2 separate regions of the Homo sapiens genome follow, and region 1 is linked to region 2. Evidence: fine-mapped expression QTL. A gene starts in region 2. The other region holds a variant in brackets. All regions are shown on one strand. Distances are from middle to middle.

The links. PIP is the estimated chance that this variant, and not a neighbour inherited with it, causes the effect.
Region 1: its variant is fine-mapped to the expression of CEP295 in stomach (GTEx, PIP 0.94).

The regions. Positions count from the first base shown.
Region 1 is chr11:93,672,178-93,686,358 of GRCh38, forward strand. It overlaps CEP295 (centrosomal protein 295), which reads left to right. Exons shown (of 30, transcript NM_033395.2): 6 at 3,394-3,489; 7 at 7,235-7,375; 8 at 11,382-11,565; 9 at 11,787-11,951. Among named protein-coding and RNA genes, the nearest start is that of CEP295, 18 kb to the left of the region's middle. The variant A/G (reference allele first, on the strand shown) is at 9,744.
Region 2 is chr11:93,651,552-93,669,192 of GRCh38, forward strand. CEP295 (centrosomal protein 295) reads left to right here and starts at 10,131. Exons shown (of 30, transcript NM_033395.2): 1 at 10,131-10,223; 2 at 15,131-15,264; 3 at 16,056-16,256; 4 at 17,257-17,381. The coding sequence starts at 15,157. RefSeq lists a silencer at 9,895-9,964 and an enhancer at 10,125-10,254.

The DNA.
Region 1 (14,181 bases), 19 kb after region 2:
GATCTTTTTACTGTGACACTTAGCTTCCCGTGAATATACTTCAGAGTTCATGCTAACTGTTCAAGTTAACTACTTATATATTAAAGTCTAGGAATGTAAACAACCATAATCTTTTCATAGGTCTGTTAAAGAATGAAGTTTGTATTGAAAACCCTGAGATGCTATGAAGACTTCTCATGTATCTATACCAGATGCAAGAGAAAAATGAGCTTTGTTTTACTTCTTCCCTTGCTTATACCTTTTTTTTTTTTTGAGACGGGATCTCACTATGTTGCCCAGGCTAGAGTGCAGTGGCTCTTCACCAGCCCCATGATAGCTCACTGCAGCCTTGAACTCCCAGGCTAAAGCAATCCTCCTGCTTCCGCTTCCTGAGTAGCTGTGACTACAAGAATGTGCCACAGTGCCTGGCATTTTTTTTCTTCTTTTCCATTGCTGCATGAGCCAGTGTCAGGTACTCCAGAGTAGAAAGCTGGTTTTGTCCTGTACTTGGGTAGATAAGGCTAGAAATAGTTACTGTGGAGCAAAACTAAGGCTGGAAGATAGAACACAGGAAGTAAATTAAGTGATTTTAAATTATTAACAGATCATCCTAATTCTGCCAGGCTAAGGACTGATTTCACTAAAAACTTAGGTGCAATTCACTGGAAATCCTGTTATAATCAATAAGGATTCATAGTAATCAAAATCTCAAATCCCAATTTTGGGAGGATTCCAAATTCAATCTATACATAATTGCCTTTACTCTGGAAGTACTGGTACTTTAAAATGTGTAAACTGAATCCCATTTGTATATCAAATTACATCATTTTAGAGACTTGTTTTCTTCAGAGTTCTTCCTTGTCAAGAAGCCTATGGTTTATTTTTTCAAGGCATTGATTTAAAGTCTACTAAGATTCTTCGTAGAGTGAAGCATTCTAATGTGTACTACCATCTCTGAATTTTTGTTTTGTGACTTCAGTTTCTTACTGAACTTTAATATTAACTAGTTAAAGCTGAGTGTGGTGGCACCTGCCTTTGATCCTAGCTACTCAGGAGGCTGAGTTGGGAGGATTCCTTGAGCCCAGGAGTTCAAGACCAGCCTGGGCAACATAGCAAGACCCTGTCTCAAATATATATATGTATATGTGTATATGTATGCTAGTTAATGTTTTCATTAGTGGTCAGTTTAATCCTTTACCTAAATGATAAGACCCTGAATAAGGTCCTCTATTGTACATATCTGGATGTATATCCAGGTATTTGCCAATTAGTTATCTTCTGACTGGTCTAGGTAATTCTCAACTTTGGCTGTACATTTATCACCTGTGCAGCTTTTTTTTTATTTTTTATTTTTTGAGACAGAATCTTATTCTGTCGCCCAGGCTGGAGGGCAGTGGTGCAGTCTCGGCTCCCTGCAACCTCTGCCTCCTGGGTTCAAGCGATTCTCCTGCCTCAGCCTCCCAAGTAGCTGGGATTACAAGTGTGTGCCACCATGCCTGGCTAATTTTTGATTTTTAGTAGAGAAGGGGTTTCTCCATGTTGGTCAGGCTGGTCTCAAACTCCTGACATCAAGTGATCTGCCTGCCTTGGCCTCCCAAAGTGCTAGGATTACAGGTGTGAGCCACAACGCCTGGCCGCAGCTTTTTAACAATGCTAATACTGGGCTCTGTTCCATGGATTCTGATTTAATTCGTTTGGTGTGGGGCCAAGACACGAGAAGTTCTTAAAAACTACTCAGATAATTCTGCTCACATCAGACTGTACATTTTTACTTGGATTTTCTTAATCCCCCCTTCTTTTTTTTTTTTCTTTTTGAGACAGATTCTTGCTCTGTCGCCCAGGTTGGAGTGCAGTGGCACAATCTTGGCTCATTTTGCATCATTGCAACCTCCGACCCCTAGGTTCAAGCAGTTATCTTGCCTCAGCCTCCCTAGCAGCAGGGATTACAGGTGTGTGCTACCATGCCCATCTAATTTTTGTATTTTTAGTAGAAATGGAGTTTTACCATGTTGGCTAGGCTGGTCTCAAACTCCTGACCTCAAGTGATCCACCTGCCTTGGCCTCCCAAAGTGCTGAGATTACAGGCATGAGCCACCGCGCCCAGCCCCTTCTTGTCCTTTATATTGTTTCTGTTCACTTGAGTCCTCCTCATCATTCCACACTCATATATGTTATAGCTAAAACTTTGGTTAATTCTCAACCTATTCTTATTTAAACTTTTCTCCCTCCCAACCTGTGTTGCATTTGTGATGTCATTGAATTAGCCAGGCATGGTGGTACATGCTTGTAGTCCTAGCTATGGTAGGCCGAAGCGTAAGGATCGCTTGAGCTCAGGAGTTACAGTGCAGAGTACAATGCCACTGTACTCTGGCCTTGTCAACAGGCCTTAAAAAAATTAAAAGTGCTTTTTATACATTAATTGATTCTTACAGTAATTGTCACAATGATCATATGGTATAGCGATAGCTATAAACCCACTTTTCTTGAGAAAGCCGAGGGACAGAAAAGTTGAGGGACTTTGCTAAGTTTTCACTACTGGGATATAATACAGAAGACATCCAGCAGAAGTGTTAGCATTTCTTTGTGGATATTTTTTTCATCAAATTATCTGTAAAATGCATGGTTTATTATTTAATTTATGTGTAATCGTTAGAACTTCTAGTTAGAACTGTTACTGTGAGCTCCTTGAAGCCAGGGGCCATTATTTTATTTTACTTCTCGTTGTCGTTCACAGTGCCTTGTGTAATGTTTAACACATAGTAGGCACTTAATATTCTTTGTCAGTTTAGTTAATTAATTTAACATCAGTATGTGATAGGTTGTGATGGACTGAATCTGCCTTTACTACAAAATACAGGAAAGGGAAGGGGGAAGGTAGTTTACTTTCATTCTTCTGAGAGTTGTTTTGTTCTGGAGTAAGTGTAATTTAAATATATTGGCAAGTGTTTCAGGACCAAAATTCAAAATACGTCATTAAACATTGAGAAAATAAGACTAATGTGAACTACAGTAGAATTTTTGTGATTAGATATGGAAGAGGACATAGTAGTGCATGTTGTTGTCTTATAAATATAATGAAGTGCTTTTCATTTCATTTGATATGGCCTGTAAGCCCTTCTATATTCAGGAGATTTAAAGATGAAATTTCTCTATAAATAACTTAAAAATTGAGATGAATAAAACACATTTAGTTAGCGACACCTTGAAGATGATTTGAAATACTGATGAATCTGGTACTTTTATTAAAATTTGAAGTAATTTAACTCAAAAAATTTGATTTCATTATGAGCAGATATTTAGCATGTTTTGGATGCGGAGAACTCATTAAAATACAAAATTACTTTTTTTGCATTGGATTCAGCTTTAAGTGAAAATTAATGCTTTTAACCTATTTTTTTATGTTCTCTTTTCCAGAACATCGAAGTAAAAAGAATTTCTGCAGTCAAAACCAATAGTTCTACCTACCATCATCTTCACACTTTTGTGAATAGAGAGACAGACACAAAACGGGTGATTGACTTATTGTTTCTTCATGCCCTCGCTTTATTATTTCTGTGTGCATTGAATTGAATTATATCTTAGTTATATGTATGGTGTTCCCAGATTTCAAAATTTGGACAATTGATAATAATAATCAAAACCTTTTAAATGCTTTGAATTTTCATGTCAGGCATATGATGGTTTAATATGAATTAAAGAAACTAGTTGGCTATTTAAATGGTTATTTTAAAATAGCAGATTTTAAAGCTTTTTTTATCATAAAATATTACATGCTATTTGTGGAAAATTTGGAACTGTACATATAAGTGTAAACTATTGGGAAAACACCAATTCTGTCACCAAAGTGGAATATAGTTAATGTTTTAATAAATTCATTATAACCTTTATTTAAATATAAACATATACACACACTTTTCAAAACATGATTTTTAGTGGCCACTTAATATTTCATGGTAGCATTTATTTAACCATTATTTTATTTTTTGCTTCTGTAAGTAATGTAAGCATTATCTTGCACGTTTTTATCCACATCTCTGATTATATATAAATTCCTGAAAGAGAAAGTATTGGCTCCAAACTGTGTAACATTTGATACAGATCATTAAATTGCTTTTTAAAAGCATCAGCAACATAGGAGAATGACCACCTTACCATAGCCTTTTCTGCACTGAATATTATGTTTTAAAAATTATTGCCAGTCTTAAGAGTAACAAATGATATATTGTTATTATAATTGCTATTTCTCTGTGTCAGTGGGGGTTTTAATTTTTTTCATGTTGAATATATTTCTCTACTAGGAAAATAAATTTTATAGCATTCCTGTGGCATTTAGAATGCAACAAATACACATTTTGGTTGACTGCTTAATAGCAGGTATTAAAATATTCAGTTAAGAACTAAAATGAATATCATCACAGAATGAACTTCTAAGATGCAAGAGTAAATCTGAGATTTATTTAAAATTGTAAAGTATTATTACAGTTTCGATATTATGATGTAGGAACAATAACTTCAATTTGTTGCTAACTGCTTTACTGTTTACTGCATTTTTGTGATTTGAAAAGATGCTACCTTTTAACTAAGATTGATGATGAATTTTTTTTTACCTAACTCTGTCAGCATAGGGTGCTGCTGATGGTATTAAATTAATATCCATAAGCTTTCTTTTTTGATAGTAACCAGAAGGCCTACCTCCTTTTCAATTTTTGGACTTAAAAATTAGATCAGTAGTTATAATGATAAAGGGTTAGAAAAAAGTTCGGGACCACAAACAAATTTTGTTTCTAACAGTTTTATGAAAGTATTCCCACAAACTAAAGCTTTGTGTACTGAATGAAGATATGATTTCTGAATATTTTCAGAAATGGGTTTATTACTGAACACATTTTTATTCGAATATTTTCTTTTATTTGCTGCTTTACTGTATCACTTAGGAAAAGTCTGTCCTTAAACTTTGGATTTAAAATGTGATGACCAATGTGCTTGGCTTTCAAGATAAAATTACCTCTGAATTTTCATCTGCACTCAACTTATATCACATGCACAATAATTTTAGCATCTTCCCTGGAGGAGTACGATATGATCTTTACAGCAGGTATCATATAAAAAATATTTGCACGCTTGGCATATATGTTTGGGTATTTTTCTTTAGCAGCTTTCTGCAAATAAACTTTCATTTGTTCAGTCAGCCTTTTTAGCACATAAGAGCTGCTATTGTGTGTGTGTGTGTTTTTAATATCCTGATAAAGTAATTCCAAAATCTTTTATATGTCATAATATATATCTTTGGCTGAAGAAGATTTATGAAAGTGGCCTGCTGTAGTCCTACTTACAGCCAGTAATTCTCTACATTTTGTTTTGCTACATTCGCTACCTCTACACACAACTGAACAAAACATCATACGCTTAAAAGTCCTACATTACATATTCATGGGCTTCATCATGTCTATTCTTTGTCAGTGACAGTTACGTAGCATTTTTTTCAAATGAACTTTGCATTCTGAAAATATTCAGTCAGATTAACTGTATTGTTTGTGGTGAGACCCAGAAATGTCTGCAGAAAAGTGAAGCTGAATCAGTTAAATTCATCATCAATTTTCCATGCTCTATTATATCTAAAAAGATTTCTGTCCAAATATCTGATGTACAAGATTCAGAAATGTATTTAATAATAGCATTTATCATTCATATATCTTTGATCTTCACATACTGAAAATAGAATCTAACATTATTTCAACCAGATTTATGGTTATGTTTTTAATTGCATTGACACAAATCTATAGGGGATTGTCTTCCTAAAGCTGTATTATAAATCTTGTTTTGAAGTATGATCAATAAGAACAAAATTTGTTTGTGGTCCCTAACTTTTTCTCTAACCCTTTATTCATATCCTTTATATGCTTTTTTATATCTGGACTGATATTTATCATTCATGTTGTATGCTATTTTGAAATTTTTCCTTTCTTTAAAATTTTGGTTTACCAAAATTGACATACTGCTTTTAATTTATCTTCAAGAGATGTGAAGAATTCATAAACAACTTTTTTCTTGAAAACCTCATGGCTGAAATGGATTGAAATATTGTTCTCAGAGGTTATATTATTTAATATCATACATATTGATATACTAAATACTCCTACAGATTATAATTTTGATTTAATCTAACTTTTTTTGTCTTACCTGATGTTATTTAGTTTTGCATGAATATTTAGTGGCTCAAAGCGGTTATATTCTTGATAAATTTGTTTGGCCAGTGTACTCTTTGTTAATTTAATAACTGTCAATCTCTCTACCTATTTATCTCACCATGTGAGAATTTTTAATAATCTTACACTTGAAGTTAACAGCTTTTTTGGTCATCATTAATTGTTTCAACTGGCTGGCAGAATTTCAACATACAAAAGACAGAAAAAGACTTTTACTGCTGGTTACATTTAGAATATTTACCTATACTTGAAAGTGAATGTTCAGATAATAAAAGTAAATCCAGGCTGGATGTGGTAGCTTACGCCTGTAATCTCAGCGCTTTGGGAGGCCGAGATGGGAGGATTGCTTGAGACCAGCCTGGTCAACATAGCAAGACCCATCTCTTTAAAAAAAAAAGTAAATCCAGACTCTGTGCCTCTTTCTCTTTTTTGTGTTATTTATGTTAATGAGATTTGTGGGTATTTACCTTTCAATACTGTCATTTTAATGAAGTTTCCTTTTTTTTATTTTTGAGATGGAGTCTTGTTCTGTCACCCAGGCTGGAGTGCAGTGGCACAGTCTTAGTTTACTGGAACTTCCGCCTCCCGGGCTCAAGTGATTTTCCTGTCTCAGCCTCACGAGTAGCTGGGATTATAGGTGCCCGCCACCATGCCTGGCTAATTTTTATATTTTTAGTAAAGACAGAGTTTCACCGTGTTGGACAGGCTGACCTCAGGTGATCCACCCACCTCGGCCTCCCAAAGTGCTGGAATTACAGGCATGCGCCACCACGCCCAGCAAGAGATTTCTTTGCTTACAAAGTGATGGATAAATGTGTTTGGAGGAGTATAACCTCATCTGGTTTAAAATGAGTAACTCGTAAAGCTTTATACTAACAATTTGATCCCTTTCATAGGTACATGCCGTTGATAATTGTGGACATTTTAAAATATAACTCTTCTTATATTTTATATATGTAGAAAACATGATTTTAAGGTTGTTTTGTTTTTTAGTTACTGCTTGTCTCACACTTTAAAAATTTTGCCTACAATTTTTGATTGACTGCTAGCCAGATGCTCGTTTGGCTGCTGAAGAGGAAGCTAAACGATTGGAAGAACTACAAAAACAGGCAGCACAAGAGAGAATGGAACGGTTTGAAAAGGCACATGTACGGGGATTCCAAGCAATGAAGAAGATCCATTTGGCTCAAGTAAGACTTATATTCTACCCATGACCATTACTCATGGACTTACTAATAGCATTGCAGGACTGATTAGTGAATGAGCTCAAAGAAAGGTAGGAAGGGTGGGTGTTCAATATAGTCTCTGATTCATATGATTTCAAGTTTCCCAACTTTCTTTGCCCTCCAATTTCAAGTTCTGATTGGGTTAAGCTATTCTCCCAGTGTATTGCTATTCTAAAAATTTTACTAATGAATTTATTAAAAGTTTAATATTTTAATATGTCCAAAAACAGCCTGAGGAAAAAAATCACTTTCCTGATTATTTCAATAGCATATGTGCTCTATAAATTTGAGGATTCAGTTCATTAAATTTGTATTGAGCAAAGCACTTGTTGGCTTTGCAGAATGTTGTTTCAAAAATAAAGTCATGATCCTTGCTACCGGAGCTTTTAAAAAGTGACAGTCAATAGGCCAGGCATGGTGGCTCATGCCTGTAATCCCAGCACTCTGGGAGGCCAAGGCGAGCAGATCGCATAGGCCCGGGAGTTTAAGACCAGCTTGGAAAACATGGAGAAACCACGTCTCTACTTAAAACAGAAAAATTAGCCAGGCATGGTGGTGTGCGGCTGTAGTCCCAGCTACTCAGGAGGCCAAGGTGGGAGGATCACCTGAGCCCGGGACAAGGAGGTTGCGTTGAGCTGAAATCACACCATACCACTGCACGCCAGCCTGGGCCACAGAGCGAGACCCTGTCTCAAAAAAAATTAAATAAAAAGTGACTGTCAAGTCCAGTCGAGGTAGCTCAGGCCTGTCTCAGGCCTGTCATCCCAACACTTTGGGAGGCCAAAGTGAGCAGATGGCTTGAGCCCAAGAGTTCAAGACCAGGCTGGGCAACATGGTGAAACCCTGTCTTTACCAAAATTCCAAAAATTAGCCAGGCGTGGTGGCCTGGGACTACAGAGTCAATACAGTCAGTCCCAGTTTGGGACTGTGTTGTGGCCTGGGACCTCATTTCCCGAGAAGGCTGAGGTAGGAGGATTGCTTGAGCCTGGCAGGCAGAAGCTGTCATGAGCCGAGATTGCACTATTGCACTCCACCCTGGTGACAGAGTGAGATTCTGTCAATCAATCAATAAATAGTGACTGTCATCAATATGTAAAATATTGTAATGAAAGCTGGCTTTATAGTTTTAGCTTAACTTCTGTCATGCTTATTGTTCATTTAGTGCTTAGTCTTAAAATATAGCATAAAAATGATTCATCTTATTAGAAGTCTGATTTTATTTTCTGAATTTGACTAATGCATTTGGATTTTTTAAATACCCATCTTAGGAATGAGTTTTTAAGTACTTCTTAAAAATGCATTGGAAATTAAATTTTCTTATGAAAGGTTATTTTTATAGTTTGAACTAAATCATGAGCTTCTCCCTTAAATTTTTAGCTTTCATAAACTAGGAGTGAATTATGACTAAAATAACTGAATGTCTGAATTATTATCAGTAATTCTCCCCATCTAAGGTTTAAACCTATAGTAAAACAGACACAAAAAGCAGTCATAAATTGAACAGATTCTTCCATAAAAGCAGTAATGTTTAGTAGTTAAGCAAGTGGGCTTCACAGTCATTCTGCCAGGATTTATCTGTCTTCTTCACCACTCAGCTGTTTGATCTCAGGCAGATTAGTTAACCTCTCTAAGTTCTGTTTCATGTGTTGTTTTTTTTTTTTTTTTTGAGACGGAGTCTCACTCTGTCGCCCAGGCTGGAGTGCAGTGCTGGGATCTTGGCTCACTGCAACCTTCACCTCCCGGATTCTAGCAATTCTCCTGCCTCAGCCTCCTAAGTAGCTGGGACTACAGGCTCGCGTCACCACACCCAGCTAATTTTTTTTTTTTTTTTTTTTTTTTTTTTTTGTGACAGAGTCTTGCTCTATCACTCAGGCGGGAGTGCAATGGCGTGATCTTGGCTCACTGCAACCTCCACCTCCTGGGTTCAAATGACTCTCCTGCCTTGGCCTCCCAAGTAGCTGGGACTACAGGCACATACCACCACGCTTGGCTAATTTTTATATTTTTAGTAGAGACAGGGTTTCACCACGTTAGCCAGGATAGTCTCGATCTCCTGACCTCATGATCCGCCTGCCTCAGCCTCCCAAATTGCTGGGATTACAGGCGTGAGCCACCATGCCCAGCCCAAGTTTTTTGTATTTTTAGTAGAGACGGGGTTTCACCATGTTGGCCAGGCTGGAACTCCTGACCTCAAACAATCTGCCTGCCTCGACCTCCCAAAGTGCTGGGATTACAGGTGTGGGCCACCAAGCCTGGCTGTTTTTTGTTTTTGTTTTTTTTTTTTAACCTCCCCTGCCACACCTCTCCTGATCATCTGTTTTGTGAGGATTCA[A/G]TGAGTTTTCCAAAGCCCTTGGAAATGTGCCTGGAATTTCATAAGCTCAGTAAATGTTAGTGGTAGTGGTCATTGTTATAAATAATCCAAAAGGAATAATATACTAGCTTGCAGTGAGCTAGAATAGTACACTTACTCAAACAACTTTAGATAATTAGAATCTTAGTATAAATGAAATAAGTTCATTTATAATTTTCCTTTTCAGGACATGGCAAAAAAAATTCATCCTCAAAAGACAAAATAGTTAAAACTTTACAAAAGAATAAGTAATGTATATATGTTATCACTTTTTAATTTATTTTTATTTATTTTTTATTTTTTGAGACAGTGTCTCACTCTGTTGCCCAGGGTAGAGTTCAGTGGCGTGATCTTGGCTCACTGCAACCTCTGCCTCCTGGGTTCAAGCAATTCTCCCGCCCCAGCCTCCCGAGTAGCTGGCATTTCAGGCGCATGCCGTCACGCCCTGCTACTCTTTGTATTTTTAGTAGAGACGGGATTTCGCCATATTGGCCAGGCTGGCCTCGAACTCCTGACCTCAGGTGATCTGCCTGCCTTGGCCTCCCAAAGTGCTGGGATTACAGGTGTGAGCCACTGTGCCTGGCCCATTACCATTTTTTTAATGCAGGATTTCTCTACGTTATAGTAGACTTAATGTTCCTTATATAAGAAGGTTGTTAAAAAAAAAAACCGTGCAATCTCACTGCTAATAGAGGATTTCATTTTTCCTGTCTGAACCTTTTTGCTGCATACTGTATTGTGGCCTGGGACCTTATTTCCTTCTAGTGTCTATATTAACTAATATTTGACTTCTACCTGCTTCTCCAGTTTTATCTTCCTTCCCTAATCATCCTTGCCCTCCATGCCCTAGCTATAATGAACAGTGTGCTATTTTCTGAATATCCCGTGCCTTCATCTCCATACTGTTGTGCTGCAGTTTTTTTCTTACATGTACTCATTCTCTTTCAGCCACTTTTGTCTGGCTAAATCCTTATCCCATCCCAAGGAACAAGAAGTCTTGCCTTGTTCTCCCTCCTTACCTTCTACCACCAAAATTCCATTAGATAACCTCATTAAAACACTGATTAAACTTTCATATTAGCCATACTCTTTAAGCTTAAAGAAATACATTCAGATCTCCTTTAATAATGGAAATTCATAAGAGTGTGAGGTAACAAGAAATATTCTATGTTAAGCCACAGTCACCCTGGGTCTTGGTGCTTACCTGAGATAGGTATATGGAGAACTGGAACAAAGTACATCACAGGAGCCATGGCAACTTATATAGACATTAACTTCATGACTTTCCTCAGAAAGGAAAACTGTAGCTGGCAGACACTTTTTGCAGCTTTATGGCCTAACCAGTACCACTCTTTCATTGTACTTACTAACATAACACTACTTATTTGTTGGTCTTACTACTAGGGTAGGGTTGAGATTGTGTCCCTAGCACTTAATGTGGTATCTGGTATTCAGCAAATAATTGTTGAATGAATAAATGTCTGTCTTTTGGCTGAACAAATAATAGAGGAGAGGAGAGAAGCTTAGACCCTGATCCTCATTTCCCCTACCTGCAACATTGTTAATATTACCATACAAAGTTTGTGACTCAGTTTTTGTTAATTCTCTTTATTCTTGAAGAATCAGGAGAAACTAATGAAAGAACTCAAACAGCTACAGCAAGAGGACCTGGCACGTAGGAGACAGACTGTAGCACAAATGCCACCACAACTAGTTGAACTTCCATACAAACGCAGTGAAATGAAAGAAGACTGGCAGAGAGAATTGGAATTTGCCTTTGAAGATATGTACAATGCAGACAGGAGTAAGATATTTTCAGTAGGGCTTTCAATAGTGATTTTATACGTTTTGGTGGGAAAATATGTTTGTAATGATAAAGCAGTTTTTATCTTGAAATGAGTTCTCTGTTTGAAGGAGGCCCCCCATATTTTAGATTGAGACATTACCGTGGCCTTTGCATTTTTGTGATCCAGTTATTTTTAATCATTTTGGAATGGAAACGTGTCTCTATTTTTCTTTTTTAAGAGGTGAAAGGGAATCTGATTCTGCACCTTGAACCAGAGCCCTTGCCCACTGTGACTAATCAGATCCAAGATGAAGAGCTGGACCTTTCAATGGAACAAGAAAATTTGGGTGCAGCTGAAGACCTTCCAGTGACAGAAGCTGAAATATGTTCTAGTGAAACAGATGGTAAAAACCCTTCTGAGCTAAATATTACAGTATTTCACAGAAAAAAAAAATGCTAACCATTAGCCAGCAGTTAGGAAAATCTGGTCTGATATAAGTGCAAGCAATGAGTAATACTGATGGGAGCAGTAGCTAAAGGATACAACGTTTTTATATTTCCATCATTGACGATCCTTTTTCATATGTGTAGGAGGAAAGTTTATTCAGACGTACAGATGATCTGAAGATTTTCAGGTTATTTGAGTTGGGTGCTCAATTCTGAATTCATTAGAAAGGTTGCATGGTAAACATATCTGATAGCAATAACTTAAGCATACCCTGAGAATGACCCTGTGTGGCATACACACCTGAATGTGTGTTCTGAGCTAGGGAATCTGGGAGTAGCCAACCTGGAGGTTCATTTCTTGTCTATGAGGAACATCTGAGCCCCTGTCCCATCCCGTGGAACATGAGCCATACAGAGGATCAAGGTGTCAAGTTTTGGGTTGAATGAAAGTTGTCAGGTGGAGATCGTTAGGAAAAGGGTACTAAGTGACAGTACTATTTAAACTGCATGCTTTTTGCAAGCGGTTGCAGTTCTTCTGTCCAGCCTGCTGCCACTGGACTCTCCCTTATGTGTATGCCCTCAGTGAAACCCCAAATCTCATTGGCTAGCTCTGGATCTCTTATTTGGCATCTTGAACCTGGTGCCATCCCCATTTGAGTGAGTAGAGGTTCAGCACGACAAAGATCAGCATAGACTTGTCAGATCATCAGAGATCCTACTGGTATTCAGTTATTTCTAGGTACTTCGTGTGTAATGATGGATAGCACAAATTTTGATCTCTCAAACATCTCTATCTCCAACATTCTGAACTTTTTTACTTGGCTGTCCCATAGTTAAAACTGCATGTCTAGCAATAAATTTATGATCTTCTCTTGCCTACTAAAACTGTCTCTACCTGTCTTTTCTATCTTAGTGAATGGTATCACAGTCTGCAGTTACCCAAGCCAGACCACTGGGAGTTACCTTTAATACTTTCCTTTTACCTGCATGTCTCCTTAAAGACCAAGTCCTCTTCATGGAATTCAGCTATTTTTGCCCCGTATCTACTGGTATTTCCTTTGTTTAAAACCACTGAGGCTTTCTTATCGTCTTCACCCTACACTGTGAACATAGCCTTTTGGGATTCCAACTTTATGTAGGCCTCCTATTATGTAGGCCTCCCATATCTACTGGTATTTCCTTTGTTTAAAACCACCCAGGCTTTCTTATCATCTTCACCCTACACCGTGAACGTAGCCTTTTGGGATTCCAACTTTATGTAGGCCTCCTATTAGACTCCTCAAGTGAGGGCTCTAGGCCTTATTCATGTCTCCTATGCCTACATTGTTGTCCAAACGGAAGCCTAAGGTTACTACCAGCAACTGGGGAAAAAAAAGCAGCAGCAGCTTAAGGTTACTGTGTTTTGACTTTGGCATAAGCTTAGCAGAAGATGGTTTCAGGGCTGACTTGCCTTCCCTCCAAGCTTTCCACTTAAATTTCATTTCTGTCCTCTGCAGAACCTTTTCTTTTCATGCCAGGTCAGCTGTGTCTTTGTTTGTTTGTTTGTTTGTTTGTTTTGAGATGGAGTCTTGCTCTGTTGCCCAGGCTGGAGTGCAGTGGCACGATCTTGGCTCACCACAACCTCCACCTCCCGGGTTCAAGTGATTCTCCTGTCTCAGCCTCCCAAGTAGCTGGGACTACAGCCACACACCACCATGCCTGGCTAATTTTTGTATTTTTAGCAGAGACGGGGTTTCACTATGTTGGCCAGGCTGGTCTCGAACTCCTGACCTTGTGACCCGCCCACCTCTGCCTCCCAAAGTGCTGGGATTACAGGCATGAGCCACCATGCCCGGCCAGCAGTGTCTTTAAAAAGATATTCTTACAGCCAGGTGCGGTGACTCATGCCTGTAATCCCAGCACTTTGGGAGGCCAAGGTGGGAGGATCATTTGAGTTCAGGAATTCAAGACCACCCTGGCCAACATGGTGAAACCCTGTCTCTACCAAAAATACAAAAATTAGCCGGGTGTAGTGGCGCTCACCTGTAATCCCAGCTACATGGGAGGCTGAGGCAGGATAATCGCTTGAACCTGGGAGACAAAGGCTGCAGTGAGCCGAAACCACACCACTGCACTCCAGCCTGGGCAACAAGAGTGAAACTCCATCTTAAAAAAAAAAAAGATATTTTTACTCTTTCATGCAGCTTT
Region 2 (17,641 bases):
AACAAAAACCAGCATAGTCAAGTCCTGACTAAAAATGATTAAAAGTGCTTTATCTACATAAGATTCGAAGATAGTTTCTGCTTTCTTCTTTATGATATTCCATATTATTTTTTACAATAGACACATATAATATGCTTAAAACTCTTTTCTCTCCTTAGAGCCACTGCCTAAGGCAGGCAGTGCCTCTCGCTGAAGCTCTGTTAGAGGCTTTGAATGGTGACTTAATATCAAGTCCTTTCAAGACTTCCTCCTTAACCTATCTACCACTCCCCACAAACAGCAATACAAATCCCAACTCTGCCACGTATTAGCTGCTTGCTTTCGAGCAATGTATTTAACCTTCACAAGCCTATTCCTTCACCCGTAAAATAATGATTTGAAAAATCTGCCTCAGAAGATTGCTGTGTGGGTCAAGGAAGACAATGTAGGTAAAGTGCCTAGCACAGTGCCTGGCACGTAACAGGTACTGAATACCAGGCTGTTGTTACCTGGGTGTGCTACCCTCGTGCACTAACACATTTCGAGAGGATGACAATGGGGGACCCTGCTCTTGCCAGTAGCAATGCTGCTGCCTTTGCTTTTTCCTATTTCTGGTGATGCTGTTCTCCTCTTGTCTGATGCAGGGGAATTTGTGAGAATAGGAAAAGAAAAAATTTCTGAGTCTTCTCACTCGCCCACAAATATTCCAAAATTTGGCTAATCCGCCCCCTAGTGGCAGACATTATAATTTCTGTCACTTTTTTTCCAACTGGAATTGCAAGAAAATACCCATAAAGGATTCATTTGAGATATTTGCCGCATCTCCTACTACCGGCCTTGTCACTACCATGTAAAGGCAGGACAGTGCCTAAACTGGCCCATTGCTTGCTTCCTTATGTTAAGGCTTTGAATGTCTTTCTTAAAATGCAAACATGCGCCTAGGAAGAGTAGTCTAACTGAATCCTTCAGCCTGAACTAGCTAGCCTGAAGGACGAGATGCAGAGTAGATGAGGGTCAGGAGAGGCCATGAGAGGCTAGCCATAAAGGTGAGTCATCAAGGGGGCCTGTGGCTATCTCAGGGGTGAGGAGCAGAAGGCACAGGTGCCAAAAATGCTTTCCCTGCTCCCTCAAAAATCATAAATGTTTATCTAGGAGTCATACCTTAGAACAGAGATGGATGTCATAAAACTAGAACATAGCTTTTTTTTTTTTTTTTTTTGAGACAGGGTCTCAAAAAGTTGCCGTGCAGTGGCGTGATCATGGCTCACTTCAGCATCTATCTCCTGGGCTCCAGTGATCCTCCCGTCTCAGCCTCTTGAGTAATTGGGACCACAGGCACATGCCACCACACCCAGCTAATTTTTTTTTTATTGTTAGTAGAGATAAGGTTTCACTATGTTGCCCAGGCGGGTCTCAAACTCCTGAGCTCAAGTGATCTGCCTGCCTTGGCTTCCCAAAGTGCTGGGATTACAGATGTGAGCCACTATGCCTGGCCTGGAACCTACCGTTCTTGAAGGAAAGGAATGCAAAATTTCCTAGCCCAAAAGGTGACTCTTTTTAACATGTTAGTATGCATTTGTGCTGGCAAAAAGACCCTTAGATTTTGAGTCAAAAGACCAGGGATTGAGTGCTCCTCTTGTGGTTGACAAGATGAGTAATAACAGGCAAGCTATTTAGCCTTTCTGAGCGTGAATTTTGTCATCTGTAGAATGGGCATGATGGTGGTAATTCTGCTCTCAGTGAAATGTGTATGGTTTTGTTTGTTATTTAGGTCTTCCTGAGATTGGCGTGCCGTGACTAGGGTTGAAGGTGAAAGAGGGACATTTACTGAAAAGGTACACACCTCTTCTGACCTGGGCCTGGCGGCTTGATGACATTAGATTGTGAAGCCCTTAGCTCTTTAATAAAGCTGAGGAGAGAATGTGCAGGATGCATAGATCCCTATCAGAGAGCTTGGGGAAAATCCCAAAAGTGAAATCCCAATAGTGAAGTCTTAGGAGCAAAGATGGGAGGGTAGAGAAAAAGAAAGTGGGGGAAAAGGCAGGGGCAGAATAGAAGCTTGAAACTTGCTAAGTATTACTGGAGATGAGATTTCAAAGAAGTAGGATAAGGGCTTTATCTAACGGAGAAAGGTCAACATGAGCCCAAATGTGGAACCCACAGACATGGTGTGAGGGAGATGGAACATGCTGGAGGGGCCTCCGGGAGCTCCAGAAAAGGTGATTCTGTAATGGGTGGTGCATGACTGAAATGGTGATAAGACCATATGCAACAGATCTGACTTCAGAATTGGGTCATCAGGTGCCACTCAATAGGAACAAGTCAAGTAAAAGAGGGTACACCAGGCACAAAGTTTAATCACACCAGACATATAGTGGAAAAGGCCTCCCTACTAGCCAATGAATTAAAGCCCAGAATTATTTTTTAAGCTAGATCATACTACAATAATCAGGACATGGATCTGAAAAACAGTCTATTATTTGTGAGTACATACATTCTTTCATTTGTTCATCAGATATTTATTGAGGATTACCTATTGTTCTAGCCCCGTAGAGATGCGGTTTCCTTCAAGGTAGAAGGTGTGATTAAAGTTTAGCAGAGAAAGTTCAGGATACCTACAGATCACAGCTGGCTAGAAGAGAAACACATATAGCATAGACCATTGTTCACACAAGAACTCAGTAAATATTTATTGAGTGATATGTTTTGGCTCTGCATCCCCACCCAAATCTCACCTCGAATTGTAATCCCCACATGTTGAGGGAGGGACCTGCAATTCCCATGTGTCGAAGGAGGGACGTGACTGGATCATGGGGGTGGTTTTTCCCATGCTGTGCTCATGATAGTGAGTGAGTTATGGTTTTATAAATGTTTGGAAGTTCCTCCTTCGTGCTTCTCTCTCTCTTCTGCTACCCATGTAAGACTTGCCTGCTTCCCCTTCCACCATGATTATAAGTTTCCTGAGGTCTCCCCAGCCATGCAGACTGTGAATCAATTAAACCTCTTTTCCTTATAAATTACCCCATCTTGGGTATTTCTTAAGAGCAGTGCAAAAAAAGGAATAATACATTGAGTGATTGGGGTGGAGTCAAATACAATGGGGTGAGCAGAAAGGAATGGGAAGGGTATGGACTTTACTGTTAGAAATGTCTGGGTAAAAACCCCAGCTCTGTCACTTGAGCCATGTAATACCAGGCTACTTAAGGACTCAATAAAATGGTAGACATTAGAATTTGTAAGACAACATTTGCCTTGAAAGATGGGTAGCTTTTAGATTTGTGGCTATGAAGGGAAGGGCATTTTTATCTCACTACTTATCAGTGCATACTTAGCTTGATGCTCTCAGGAATCATCCTTTCCATAGACAAGCTCACATTTTAAGCCAGCAGCACAGCAGGCATACTAGGAAGATGTGGGCAACACTTGGAGTCACACAACAGTAATTCCACACTAATAAGAAGCAACTATTCCACCTACTTTGCCCATGCAAAATATTATGATTTTATACTGCGAAATCCTGAGTTGGGAGTCATATGAACAAACGGGGTTGTTTCAAGTACTTCACAATCCTTGCACTAGCTTCAAGAGGAAGTGTTAGGACTTAACTGTGTTCCTCAGGAAACCATATGTTGAAATCTCAAGCCCCAACACCTCTGCATGTGACTTTGTTTGGAAATAGGATCATTGCAGATGTAATTAAAGATGAGATTATACTAGAGTAGAGTGGGCCCCAAACCTAGTATGACTGGTGTCCTTGGAAAAAGGGGAAATTTGGACACATACACACACACACACATACACACACACACACAAACACACACAAACACACCCACACACAGGGAGAACGCCATCTGAAGCTGAAGGCAGATATTGGGATGACGCATCTGCAAGTCAAGGAACTACCAGAAGCTAGGAGGTTTAGAACAGACCCTTCCCTAGAATCTTCAGAGGGAATATGGCCCTGCCAACAGATACTTTGATCTCATACTTCTAGCCTCAAGAATTGTGAGATAATTAACATCTGTTGTTTAAGTTACTCAGTTTGCAGGACTTTGTTATGGCAGCCATAGCAAACTATTAAAGGAAGTCTTTACAGTTTTTAAGAAAGGAGAGAGAGAATGTTTGGGGTAGAAACAAGATACCCTGCCCAAGGAGGGAAAAGCAAAAATGCAAGGAGACAGCTGAAGAAAACGACCCCCAGAGATGAGTGTCTGAGGCTGGATCAGATGTGTAGATAATACTGAGAGGGAGGAAGTTGAAGAGACAAAATTTCCTTTGAACAACAATACATCATAATGACTCTAAGAGATAAGATCTGTACATAGGAGACTTATACTGAAGGGTCTGCTATAATGCAATGAGAAAACTAAGCTTGTGGTTAGGAAATATCACCAATTCACCTGTTGATTCCAAAATGTCCAGTATAGCATCGAGCTTATTTACCTCATATAGGGCTTTGTGTAGAACAGTGTTTCTCAAACTTTCATGTGTATACACATTGCCTGCAGATCTAGTTAAAACACAGATTCTGGTTCAGCAGGTTTGGGGAGAAGCCTCAGAGTCTGCATTCCTAACAAGCTCCCAGGTGATGCCAACACTGCTGGTCCTTGGACCACCCTTTGGGTAGCAAGGGTGTAGGTTACAGTTATGTTCACAGGTAAATGAAAATAATTTTGGACAAAGGGAATGCTAAGTAAACAGAACTGATTGATGTTCTTGTTCTCTGTAAGCTGGATCAGTTCAAGTGAGTCAAATGGCAGTAACAAAGAAATGGTGGTACGGCAGTCACCTGCCCTGAGTCTGGACTGGTGGCTAAATCATAGGAGGATCTTTTATAGTTATTTATATGCTTCTATGTAAGATATTTAGAAATTTTCTATTTGATCTTTACGACGCAAAATTTTAAAATGTAATCTTTACAACTGCTCTATGAGATAGGGTAGGTATTAATATTTCTGGCACACATGGTGCATAATAAATGTTTGGTATTTTTATCCCTATTTTATAAATAGAGATTGAGCTTTGGAGGTTAACTGTTGGTCAAGTAGATGTTCAAACACACATCTTCAAAACTCTTCCCCACCCTACCCAAGCCCCCTCAATGGCTATGTACTTTTTTGGGTTGTATATGATTTCCTTTTTTTTTCTTTTTAACTAGACTTCTCTCTCTCTCTTTAAGCATGAAACTCAAACTCTACCCACTTATGTCTTAACAGGTATTCGTATTTTTGATACACATCATATTAGCAATGTGCTGGGAAAGATTTAAAAGATGGAACAGAGCCAGTGAATTTCCCTATTATCTCCTCTTGCTTCTTACTGTCTTTAAGCAAGTGGCTCAATTCCTTGGCTCAACTCCTACCCTATACCTCTAAAAAATATTTACAGCTTTTAAAAGTTTTTCTCAGCCTATCCTTCCTCTCCTGCCTGGCACTCTTAATTTCACTCCTGGTAGTAGCTCTAAATTATTCTACCGAGACACCGTCACTTGTTAAGCTCCTGTGGTGTGTATATTAGGGAGAAAGAGGGCAGTTAGCATATGGTCAGATGGAAGTTCTTTGATTACTTTTGTTCTTGCAGAGATCCCCCTTTTTTCTGGTGTTTATACATAAGAATTATTGAGGGTTCCTCCCCACTTAAATATCATTTGCTTATATTGGATGTGGATAAAGATGAAACAGTGAAACCGTTGCCATCAGAGAAACATCTTAAACTGTTCAAATCTTAAATGGCTTCAGTTGCATTTTGAAGAGTGGCAGCATTATAAACCAGTGACACTAATGTCATTACTGCTGAGGACAATTCTTCCTCTTGATCACTGGTTACTGAGGTTCATTCTCAATAGGTTAACAATACTAGAAACTAAATACACATACTTCTCCCTAGGCCTAAACTCTACAAAAAGACTGAATTAAAAATCAAACCAGGCCGGGTGTGGTGGCTCATGCCTGTAATCACAGCACTTTGGGAGGCCAAGGTGGGAGGATCACTTGAGTCCAGGAGTTGAAACCAACATGGGCAACAAAGCAATAGCCCATCTCTACTAAAAAAGAAAAAAAAAAATCAAATCCAAAACACCAATAAACACATTTAAGAGTTTGGGTTTTTTTCCCTCTCTTGTATTCTAAAATGAATGTATTAAAATTAAAGCCAAAAAAGGTAACATTTATTGCACATGTTGTGCCAGACATTGTTTCAAGAGCTTTAAACCTCACAAGAACCTGAGTACTTTCACTACATCTCTTTAAGAGATGAGGAAACAGACTTTTAAAGAAGTCCAGTAACTAGCTCAAAGTCACAGAGTTAGCCAGAAATTTAAATCCATTTGGAAGAAATCTATGTAACATTTTTATTTTTCAGACAGGGTCTCACTCAGTTGCCCAAAGTTTACTTACTGCAGTGGCACAATCATAGCTCACTGCAGCCTTGACCTCCTGGGCTCAAGCTATCCTCCCACCTCAGTCTCCCAAGTAGCTAGGACTACAGGTGCACACCACCATACCTGGCTAATTTTTAAATATTTTTGTAGAGATTAAGTCTCCCTATGTTTCCCAGGTTGGTCTCAAACTCCTGGGCTCAAGCAATCCTCCTGCCTCGGCCTTCCAAAGTGCTGGGATTATAGGTGTGAGCCACTGTGCTCAGCCAAGATCTTAAACATTATTCTATACTATCTCCCAAGATGTCCAGATGTGTTTGTCTATGAGAATTTAAATAAAAATCTACAGCCCTTTTTAATTTGCAAAAAAATAGAAATTCCCATTCAAAGCAGCTTCAGTAGAAGACTGAATGGCTGCTACCAGTTTGCTGCAGAATAGGCAGGCATATTGACCTCAGGTATGGCTAGATCCAGGGACTTGAACACTATCCAAATTCTCTCTCTGCGCTCCTTGCTGTCACACTCATTCTTTCAGACCAGCTTGTGGGGGACCACCTGGGAAAGCTCCAGGTTTACATCCTAACATGAGCCCAGAGAGGAAAATATTTGTCTCTGCTGTCTCCAGTGCCAATTCCTGTGAAAGACTCTGATTGCCCCAATTAGGTAACATACCTGTACCTCGGTTGGTCACAATGGCAATGGAAACAAGAACTGCGATTTGTCCAGTCTGGGTCACATGCCTACCCCGGTAGCCTAGAGGTCTGGGTCTGTACCAGAGGAGGAGAGAAAGGTGTTCGACAGAAAAATAAAATAAATAACTGCTAAACTACCTAGTATGTGTATACCCCTCTAGAGTTTACAAAGTGCTCTCATATGATTCATGCCTTTTGAGTCTCACAACCATCCTATAGAGAGGCGACATGAAGTATTACTAAGAAACGTGGTGGATTAAGATGGCTACAAATTCTTTGTCACTGCCTCCATTGAGAGATGGAGTTCATTTCCCTTTCACTTGAATCTGGCCTGGCTCCATGTTACTTAACCAATAAAATGTGATACAACTTACTACAACTCGTTCTCTGCCTCACCTTTTAAAGGACTTGCAGCTTCCACTTTATTCCTCTGCGAATGCTCACTCTTAAGATGCTCCCTCTCCAAACTAGCCACAATAGAGTGAGATGTCCAATCTACATGGACTGGTCATGAGTGGACACTCCAGTCAACAGTTCCAGCTGAGCTCTCAGCTGCCAGCCAACGTCAGCTGCCAGCCATAGTAAGTGACCCATGTTGGACATTCCAGGGTGGTTCGGTTGGCAGCAATTGATCGCCAAAACAGAAATGAAGACTCATTGATTTGAGGTCCCACGGCTAGAAAGTATCTGTGGTAATGCTAAGCCAGATGCTCTGACTCTAAGCCCACTTGGGCTTTGATTCCTCACTGCCTTCTATTAAAAACAGAACAAGTCTCGATTCAAAATCTCCAAGTGTAGAATTTCTGCCAAGGATGCAGGTTGAGGAAGTGAAGCATGTAATTTGGTCATTTATTCAGCTTTGTTCATTTATGCCAGGCAACTGAACAAAGTGCACTCCTGGTTCTCAAGAAACTTAGAGTGTAATCAATAGAGAGCCCTCTAAACAGCTCATTTCAATAAGAACTCCTAAGTGCCATGGGGCAGCATGTGCAGGAACCCATGTCCAGGCACTAAACCTAGCCCAAGGGATGAAATAATATGCACATGTTTTATCGGGTATGGAAGAGTATCTCCGTGCCTGTATGGAGGATGCTGAAAAAATGTTTAAAATGAATACAAATATTCTTCAAGATAAATGTGACAGGAAATGGGGAGAGAGGCTGAGAAGAACCCTAATATTTGGGAAGGAAACGTGAATTCTAGTCCTGGTTCACCCTTGACTGAAATGTGCCCTTGGCCAAGTTGCTGAATCTCTCTGTAACTCAGTATCCTGATCTGTAAATCTGAGGTGGAATCACACTATTTCTTCCTGTACCTTCCTTCCTCCTACTCCATCCCTTTAAGTTTTGGTGTTCCTCGGAGTTTGGTTCTTTGCTCATTGCTCTTCTCACTCTGCAAATTCTCCCTAAGTGATCTCATCCATTCCGCTAGCGTTTGTTATTACTCATGTAACAAGGAAATCCCTTTATGCTTAGCCTAGTTCTTTCTGTGGGCTATCTACCGATGTATTCATCTGCTTACAGTACATCACTGGATGTTCTACAGGCACATGAAGTTCAATATACACAGAGCTTGGCTCATCACCCTACCCACTTAACTGCCATTTCTGATTTCTCCCTTTACAATCAAGAATCAACACTGCTACCCAAGCTAGTGGCCTATGAAATCAACTTCACTTTCCCTTTTCTCTCAATCTCACATGCAATTGTTTGTCAAGTACTGCTAATTTTGTGTCCTAAGTTTCTGAAATGCATCCCTTTGTCTAGATATCTCATAAACAGCTCAAATTCAAAATATTCAAAGCTTAACTTATTACTTCTCCCTCCTGGTTCTCTTCATGTGTGTTCCAGGAGGATGTTATCACTATCTACCCAGGTGCTAGGTATCTGGGACTTGGGCATCACCCTTGTTTTCTCCTCTTGTGCCTCCCATAACCAGGTAACCACCAATTCCTGATGTTTGGCTTCCTATTCAATCTACTCACCTCTCTCCATTCTCATTGCTATTATCTTTCACTTTCTGTAGTAGTATACGGCCTTCTGTCTTCACTCTCTCTGACCTTTTCCCCACTGTGCAGCCAGATCTGATCGTGTCAGCAACTTCCCATCCCCACCCCCCATTTTTAATCCTTTGATTCCTGATGTTTAACCCCCATGACCCAGACTGCAAAATCTAGTATAGGCATCATAATCCATCCAGAGTAACATAATGTACTCGGCACATAACAGATACTCAATAGGTATTAACCTGTGCTCACCGCCTGATTATTGGTTATTTACAGCAGATAAATCCGTGAGGTGCTCTCCGTGCGCTGTACCTCTGGAGGCACAGGGTAACATACGGCTCATTGTTGTTATGAGCTGGAGGCCTTAAATGAAAGCTATAAGACGTTAACTGCGCATAATAGTACCAATGAATTCCGTAGTCAGTACAGAAAAGGATGCATATCCCAAGATATCTTCATGATGGGGCCTTAAAACAAAAGTCACCCTCATGGCTCTGCACTTTTTTTTTTTTTTTTTAGACAGGCTTTGGCTCTGTCGCCCAGGCTGGAGTGCAGTACTGGCGGGATCTCGGCTCACTGCAACCTCCACCTCCTGGGTTCAAGCGATTCTCCTGCCTCAGCCTCCCGAGTAGCTGGGATTACAGGCGCCCACCACCACGCACGGCTAATTTTTGCTGTTGTCGTATTTTTTGTAAAGATGAGGTTTCACCATGTTTTTAAAAGGACTTGGTCTTGAACTCATAACCAAAAATACATAACCTCGAACTCTTGGGCTCAAGTGATCCTCCCGCCTTGGCCTCCCAAAGTGCTGGGATTACAGGCGCGAGCCACCGAGCGCGGCCCATACGGGAAAACGTCAAAGCCTGACAGGTGTGACAAATAATGGGCCCCTAGGCAGGCTGGGGCTGGCGCGTGCCTGTGCGCGTGCGCGGGGCGCGGGGTTTTTAACACCGCGCAGCCTTCCCGGCGGCCCCCGAGGAAGGCGGGACAGGGCCTATTCCCGCGGTTTGGTCCGGCCATTGGCGGGCGGTTTGAATGACGGAAGTGACGGCGGCTCGGCGATGGCTCTCCCGCAGGCGCAGAAACGGCTGCTGGGCAGCTGATGGGCAGGAGCTTACCAGGCTGGCTTGCTCTGAGCTGCGGTTACTGTGTCCAGGCCCCGGGTTCTCAGGTGAGTCAGGGATGCACTGGCTTCCCAGTCGCCCCGTAGGAGCATGACTCCCCGAGGCCCAAGAGCTGGGATTGTATTCCGGAGGAATGGGATCCCAGGAAGGCGCCTTGTTGCGAACGCAGGTACGGCTCGCGTTTCTCAGGCTCCGCAGGCCGTGGGCCCTGCCCGCGGTCGGGCTGGCGGCTGTAAGGAGTGTCCGGACCAGACCCGGTAACTCAGTGCGAGAGGCTTTGCGCGCTCTCCTGGGGTCGGGTCGCGCGAGCTTCCCACGCAGCCTCCCCTGTCGCGGAGCTTCCGTGTCGGGGGAGGGGCGCTTCCCCCAGATCACCCGCGGACATGGCCTGCCACCTGGTAGCTGTTAAAAGAGCCTTGCCTGGATCGTTTCATGCAAAGAGCACGCTCTCTTTTGGTGTCTGCCACCTTAATCTCACAGTTATTCAATCCTGTCACAAACTCAACTTTTAAAACAATGGTGAACTTTTGAGTCCTTAATACTTAGAGTGTATTTGAAGACTTCACGCTAAGTCACATAGACGTCAGAACAAACCTTTTGGGGTAGATATTATTATTCCCTTTATACAGTTTAAGAAAACGAAACCAAAGTGACTTCAGTGACTTGGCCAGTATCTTCCTGCTAATAAGTGGCAGTGTTGGGTCTTGAACCCAGATCTTCCAAGTTTAGTGTTAATTTTGTGATTACTATGTACCAGGAGCCATTTAATCCTCAGGACGAAATCTTGCAAGATAAGTAGTATAATCTTCAATATTGGATAGTAATAAAATGTAGAATTTAAAAATCCATATTACTAAGAATAAATAATTAATAAACAAGTAAATGGGGCAGCAGGGAAAACTTCCTTACAGCAGGATTCCGATTGATAATTGTAGAAGGAATAATGGAAATAGAAAATACTATTTGGTAAACACCACAGTAGTTGTTTCAGACAACAGTCATCAATGGATACTAACGTCAATGGGCAAAAGTATGATGAAAAGCATATTTCTGTAGCCTCTACTCTGTCTTCATGAGATATTTATAAAGGAAAAGTAGTAACTACAGAGGAGAAACCTGGTGGACATCATCTTAACCAAGTGACCAAAATTCAGCATCATTTACCTCTTGATAACAATGCACTGAAAAGGTGCCTAATCAATTCTGTGGTGTTCTTGCCAAAAATACATAACCTCAGTTTAATCACATAAGATTAGACAAATCTAAATGGAGGGACATTCAACAAAGTACTTGGCCAGTATTTTCAAAAATGACAGGGTCTTGAAAAGACAGACTGAGAAACTGTCCCAGATTAAGGGGGACATGACAACTTTGACATGAGAATGTAACTCACATATCTTAATCTCCTGCATTCTGAAATCTCCATTTGCACTGAGGCCATGCTTCCCATGGGCTGCTCCTAGCCACTGACAGTGGCAGGCCTGTTCCTGAGAATCTCCCCACGGGTTCTTGCTGAACATTTCTTATACTGCATGGCTGTCTAAGAGGGGTCTACCCATTGTTACTTCCCTCCATTCAGTGTTAGACTTACACTGAAGTCTGAGGCGCTTGTAACTTTTATCAGCTCCCTCCCATTTTCCCTCACACACGCATTTCTCCTAATAAAATATTTGCAGGTTTACTCCCATCTTAGCGTCTGCTTTTTAGATGACACACAGTTACACAGCAACAAATGCAATGTGTTATATCCTTGGATTGGCTTCTGGTCCAGAAAATAGACATTAGTGTGATAATTGACAAAAATTGAATACTGCCTGTAGATTAGTAAAAAATATTGTGTCAGTGTTAATATTCAGATTTTGATCATTGTACCATGGTTATGTACAAGACGTTGACATTTGGAGAAGCTGGGGAAAGGGCAAATGGGAATTCTAAGCCTGAAATTTCCAAATAAAAAGTTTAAAAAATTTAAAAATTATACACAAGAAGAAACAGTTATTCTATCGCATTTTAGGAGCTTAAAAATAATAAATGTTTATATGTTTTTCAATAATCCTCTGAGATGAAGTAATGGATACCTAAAATTTGAAATATTAGGATTTTTTTCCTCTTAAAGTATAAGAATAAAACACAAATCTAGGTATACCATTTGAGGAATTTTTACATATGTATACACTTGTCTAAACCATCATACAGATCAAAATATATAAATTTTCAGTACCCCAGCAAGCTTCTTTGTGCCATCTCCGAGTCAGTAACTTCCAGTAAGGTAACTTTATTTTTACCTCTCATGGATTAGTTCTGCTTGTTCTTGAACTTTATATAAATCAATTTTGTTGTACTTTTTTGTGTCTGGCTTTTTAAAAATTCAGCAATATTATGTCTATGAGATTCATCAGGAATTAGTCTTAATTATTTAAATATGAGGGAATTTCTTAGACCTTCAGACAAAATAATAAAGATACATTGTGAAGATTAATCTTGTTCTTTTTTCTTCTTTGTTAAATTTTCTGTTTTTTAAATTCTCACTCTCAAAAAACAACAGCTTAAATAAAATTTTCGCCACTCCACATATTTTTGTGTGTTGGAAAGTTAGGAGCCATTTGGAATAAGGAAACCAGATTCTTCCCTTGGCTCCGCCACTAGATGTTGTCACTCAGGGAAAGTCCTTTAACCCAAGAGGCCTTGTTTCTTCATGTATAGCATGAAAAATATAATCAGTACTTTAGTTACCATTACCAAAGCCGTGTGAATATTAGATGAGTAGGATGCATTAAAAGATTTTTTTAATGCCAGCAGTTAGTCCTTTTTGGTGTTAGAGTCTTATTGAAGGTTGTGATGATTGTGTATAGCTCTGTAGCACTTCACATAAATTAACTCATTGAGTCATTCATTCAGTCAACACACTTACTGAAGTAACTACCTATGGGCGAGACACTGTTTTCAGGCTATGGACATAAAATGGTGAATAAGTCCATTCTGCCCTGATGAGCTTACATTCTGATGGAGAAGTCACTGGAAAGGTATTAGTCCCTGTTAGGTAATCCCACAGTCTCCTAGCCCCTATTCTGTTTACACCTGGTTGAAAACATTGTGCATCCATAGTATGTGAAATATTACCTGGTAGTTATTTATTAAATTTAATTGAATATTAAAATTTTTATTAAAAAACCCATAGCCATTGTCCTTCAATTGTTAGGAATCTAACTAGAAAGAGCAAACTGTAATTGATGAAAAACTACAGGAGGTAATACCAAGACAACATAAAATTAGTCCCCATCTGAATGTATAGGTAATAATGTATTAGAGTTGGGCAAATCAGGAGTGGGAAATTGCAACAGGAATTATCAGAGGACAGCTTCGTAGAGGAAGGAGGGCTTAAGCCAGCTTTAGAAAGATGTAAATATTCAGTAACTGAGATTGTCTGCCTGGTCATTGTGAGGGAGACCTGAGAAATGTTGATTGTCTCAGATAAAATGCTCATGTACTCATGTAAAGTGTCTAATTTTTTGGAAATGGCAGTAATAGGAGCCAGTTAATATCAGAATTACCTGAGGAGGGTATTCAAATTATAGAACTATAGATTCTTATATTTATTCCATTTCTTTTTGCCTCGTTCCCCCAAATAGGAGCATGTTATAATCTAGGGAGGAGAGAGAGAACACAGTGTGAACGGTAGCAACAGAAGAATAGATCTGGGCCGGGCGTGGTGGCTCACACCTTTAATCCCAGCAACTGGGGAGGCTGAGGCAGGTGGATCACTTGAGGTCAGGAGTTCGAGGCCAGTCTGGCCAACATGGTGAACCCCTGTCTCTACTAAAAATGCAAAAATTAGCTGGGTGTGATGGCGCATGCCTGTAATCCCAGCTACTCAGGAGGCTGAGGCAGGAGAATCACTTGAACTCAGGAGACGGAGGTTGTGGTAAGCCAAGATTGTGTCATTGCACTCCAACCTGGGCGACAGAACGAGACTCCATCTCAAAAAAAAGAAGAATAGATCTGGAAAACTAAACGCTTGATACAGCCGAGCAAGTCATTCATATAAAAATTACGTCACTATAATTATTGAAGAATTGTTTACTGTAGATTATAGAACATGGGATTGATGTGATTTCATGAGGTAACAATGACACTTGGTGATCAAGTTATATGCAGTAGACTGGGAGTTGAATCTAGGAACAAAGAACCCTTGAAATTACAGCAACCTTGCTAGTTATGAACAAGTTATGAAGGTTCTAAAGTGTCAGATTATAGTTTTGAAAACATTTATTCTATGCTAACATCTTTTTAGGTCTTTGTGCTTTTTCACATTTAAGCTCAGTAAACTCTGGAAATGCTAACCAGGAATAAGTCAGGTCCAGATACTCGAGGTAGACAATCTGCTATAAACAGGAGAAAACTTTTCTGAGTAATTCTGATTCAGTCTTCATTTCCACTTTCCCACCCTTCTGAGTATCACTGATCTAAGTGTGAATTTATAATTGCTATTTGTAAATAAGTTGGACTTCGTTTACTCAAATTTTCCTTGCATGTATATAACCCTTTAAATATCAAAAGTATTAACACGAATTTTAAAAATTTTCTGAGCAGGCATGGTGGCTCATGCCTGTAATCCCAGCACTTTGGAAAGCTGAGGTAGGTGGATCACTTGAGGCCAAGAGTTCGAGACCAGCCTGGCCAACATGGTGAAACCCCATCTCTACTAAAAATACATAAGTTAGCTGGGCGTGGTGGCATGCACCTGTAATCCCAGCTACCCTGGAGGCTGAGGCATGAGAATCGCTTGAACACGGGAAGCAGAGGTTACAGTAAGCTGAGATCGCACCACTGCCCTCCAGCCTGGGTGACAGAGCAAGACTCTGTCTCAAAAAAAAACAAACAAAATTATTCTAATCTTTGCTGCCCTATTTTAATGTTACATTATTTTTATAGACATTTTCCTTTTTGAATTCAGAACTGTCATACATAAAGTACACAGAAATGAAGAGAAAAGTCGTGAATACTCACAAGCTGAGATTGAGTCCTAATGAGGAAGCCTTCATTTTGAAGGAAGATTATGAAAGAAGGCGAAAACTAAGATTGCTACAGGTATGACTTATTTGTAATAAAGTTTTAAATTCCTTTCTTCCTCAAATTACTTGTATTCTTTTACATTAGAGTGTTCTAAATGTTGTATTTAAAAACCTCTTCTGGGTATACGAGAGCCCTGGTTATTTGGTATTAACTAGTTTTGGAACACTTGAAAAATAGGCTGAGATGGTTAAGTACATTGTAGAAGAGTTGGAAGATAGGTATTATTTGACTCGAATATTGAAAATAGCTCTTTATCTTTTTTAAAAATGGTCTGTAATTGGTAACAGGAAGCTTAGATGACTTTGAAGAATGCTAATTGGAAAGATTATTAGCTGCTGAAACAAATTTATCAGGAAATTGCAGATAACCCTTTTCTAGAAGTGTTTTTAAAGTAAGTTTTTGTGAAGTATGTTTCAGGCACCATTCTGTCTAGAATCAGAAATGATGTACAACAGAAATGGAGTTCTCATCTGGCTCTGTCTGTACTCTGGGCTATAGATTTTGTTGAATCATATTTATCGCTTTAGCTTTTATAGGTTATTAGAGTGATAATGGCAGTCCTTTTGGGAGTGGGCGCTGAATAAAAGCTATCAGTTTGGAGACATTAGATATAGTCTTGAGATTTTTACTTTTTGTACATTCACTCAGATTTTCTGCTTTAAATAGTCTTTATCTAATACAAGATGAGTATCAAAGAGAGTTGACAGACTTAAGAGAATTCATTTGAGTTCCTCTTTCCAAATAGCTTTTCAAAAAAGTTTAAGTAAACCTCCTTTCATATAACCTGTTAAATATGCATTCTTTAGGTTCGAGAACAAGAAAGAGATATCGCCTTACAGATAAGAGAAGACATAAAACAGAGGAGAAATCAACAATTTACACGTTTGGCAGAGGAGCTAAGGGCAGAATGGGAAGAATCACAAACTCAGAAAATACAGAACTTGGAAAAACTGTATTTGGCAAGTTTAAGAAGTATGGGAGAGGGACATCGACAGGCCAAAGAAAATGTGAGTGAGATCTTATTTGACTACCCTGTTGTGGCAGTAATATTAGTAAAAAGTAAATTATAGTTGTTGAATGCTTTTCTGATAACATTTTCATGCATTGAATTTCTTTGGGGCAGCTTGAACTTTTTTATAAATTTAATGTAATTTGTGAATAATAGGCTCATTTCTTACTAAGAGTTATTTCAAGTAAAATCCATGTCAAATAAAATTGGTCTTCCTATGATGTTCAAGTTAGCATTATTCTCTTCCAGTACTCCTCTATCTGGGGAAATAATAATCTTCTGAATCAGAAGTTGTTGTCCATCTCAGGCATTTTTTGACAGATTTGGTGGGGTGAATTCAACCCCCCAACAAACATTTTTTGATGACTTTCAGAAAGTCACAGTAAGTCTGCCCCATTATTTTGATTTATTGTGATTTATGATGTGGAAATACTACAGTCCCAGAATCAGTCACATACAGTAAACAAGCTAGTTACAAAGAAGGTAAATCTTTGATAACAACTAGTGAGAAAGAAAATATCTTAAGACTGTGGCAATCTGTTTCATGGTCCTTGGTTTTAGTCTGTGTTTTTAGTAATAGCCGTAAGTTCTGACTCAGGTTTTTGTGGTTTTATGCATGCCACATTAAGTTTGTGCCTAATGCAATGTTTCCCAAACCTCTGTTATTTGAATACCATGTTCACAATTTTTGCCCTGACTGGGAAACTACCCATATCACTATATATTTTACGTACTTTAACCATGTCCTAAGTAGTTCGATATCCTATTTATATTTTTGTAATAATGTTAATTGATTGCATTAACTTTACATTAAAATGTTTGTGTTTGTCCCCCCTAATATGGCATATCATCAGTGGTACTGTTGTCATGCTCTGGGAAACACTGCTATAGTATGTAGAAAGAAGATGACAAAATTGATAAATCACTTCTGATATCATATGAGACACATTTCTATTATTCTTGTTTAACATGACATTTTAAGTAATATATATTTTTAGGAACCTGATTTGGATGCTTTGGCACAGCGGGCAGCAGAAAGGAAAAGAAAAGCAGATTTGAGGCATAAAGAAGCCTTGAAAGTACAGAAAAATCAAAAAGAAATATTACTGAAACAAAAAACCTGGTAAAGTAATAATTTTTACTATAATCTCAACTGAAACTAACATGGTTGAAAGTAGAGGATACATAGGATACTGTGTAAGCAAATATTAAATAAACATAGTAGCATATTCATTGCATTTGTTAAACTTGATTTAAAAATAATGTTGGGGACAGGGAATGATTTGCTTAGGTGAACATAGTAACTAATGAGCTTTCTTTTCTAGTTGTAGTTTGAGTTGAGTTTAGCAGCAGTTACTAAGTTTCTGAAAAAATATATGGCTA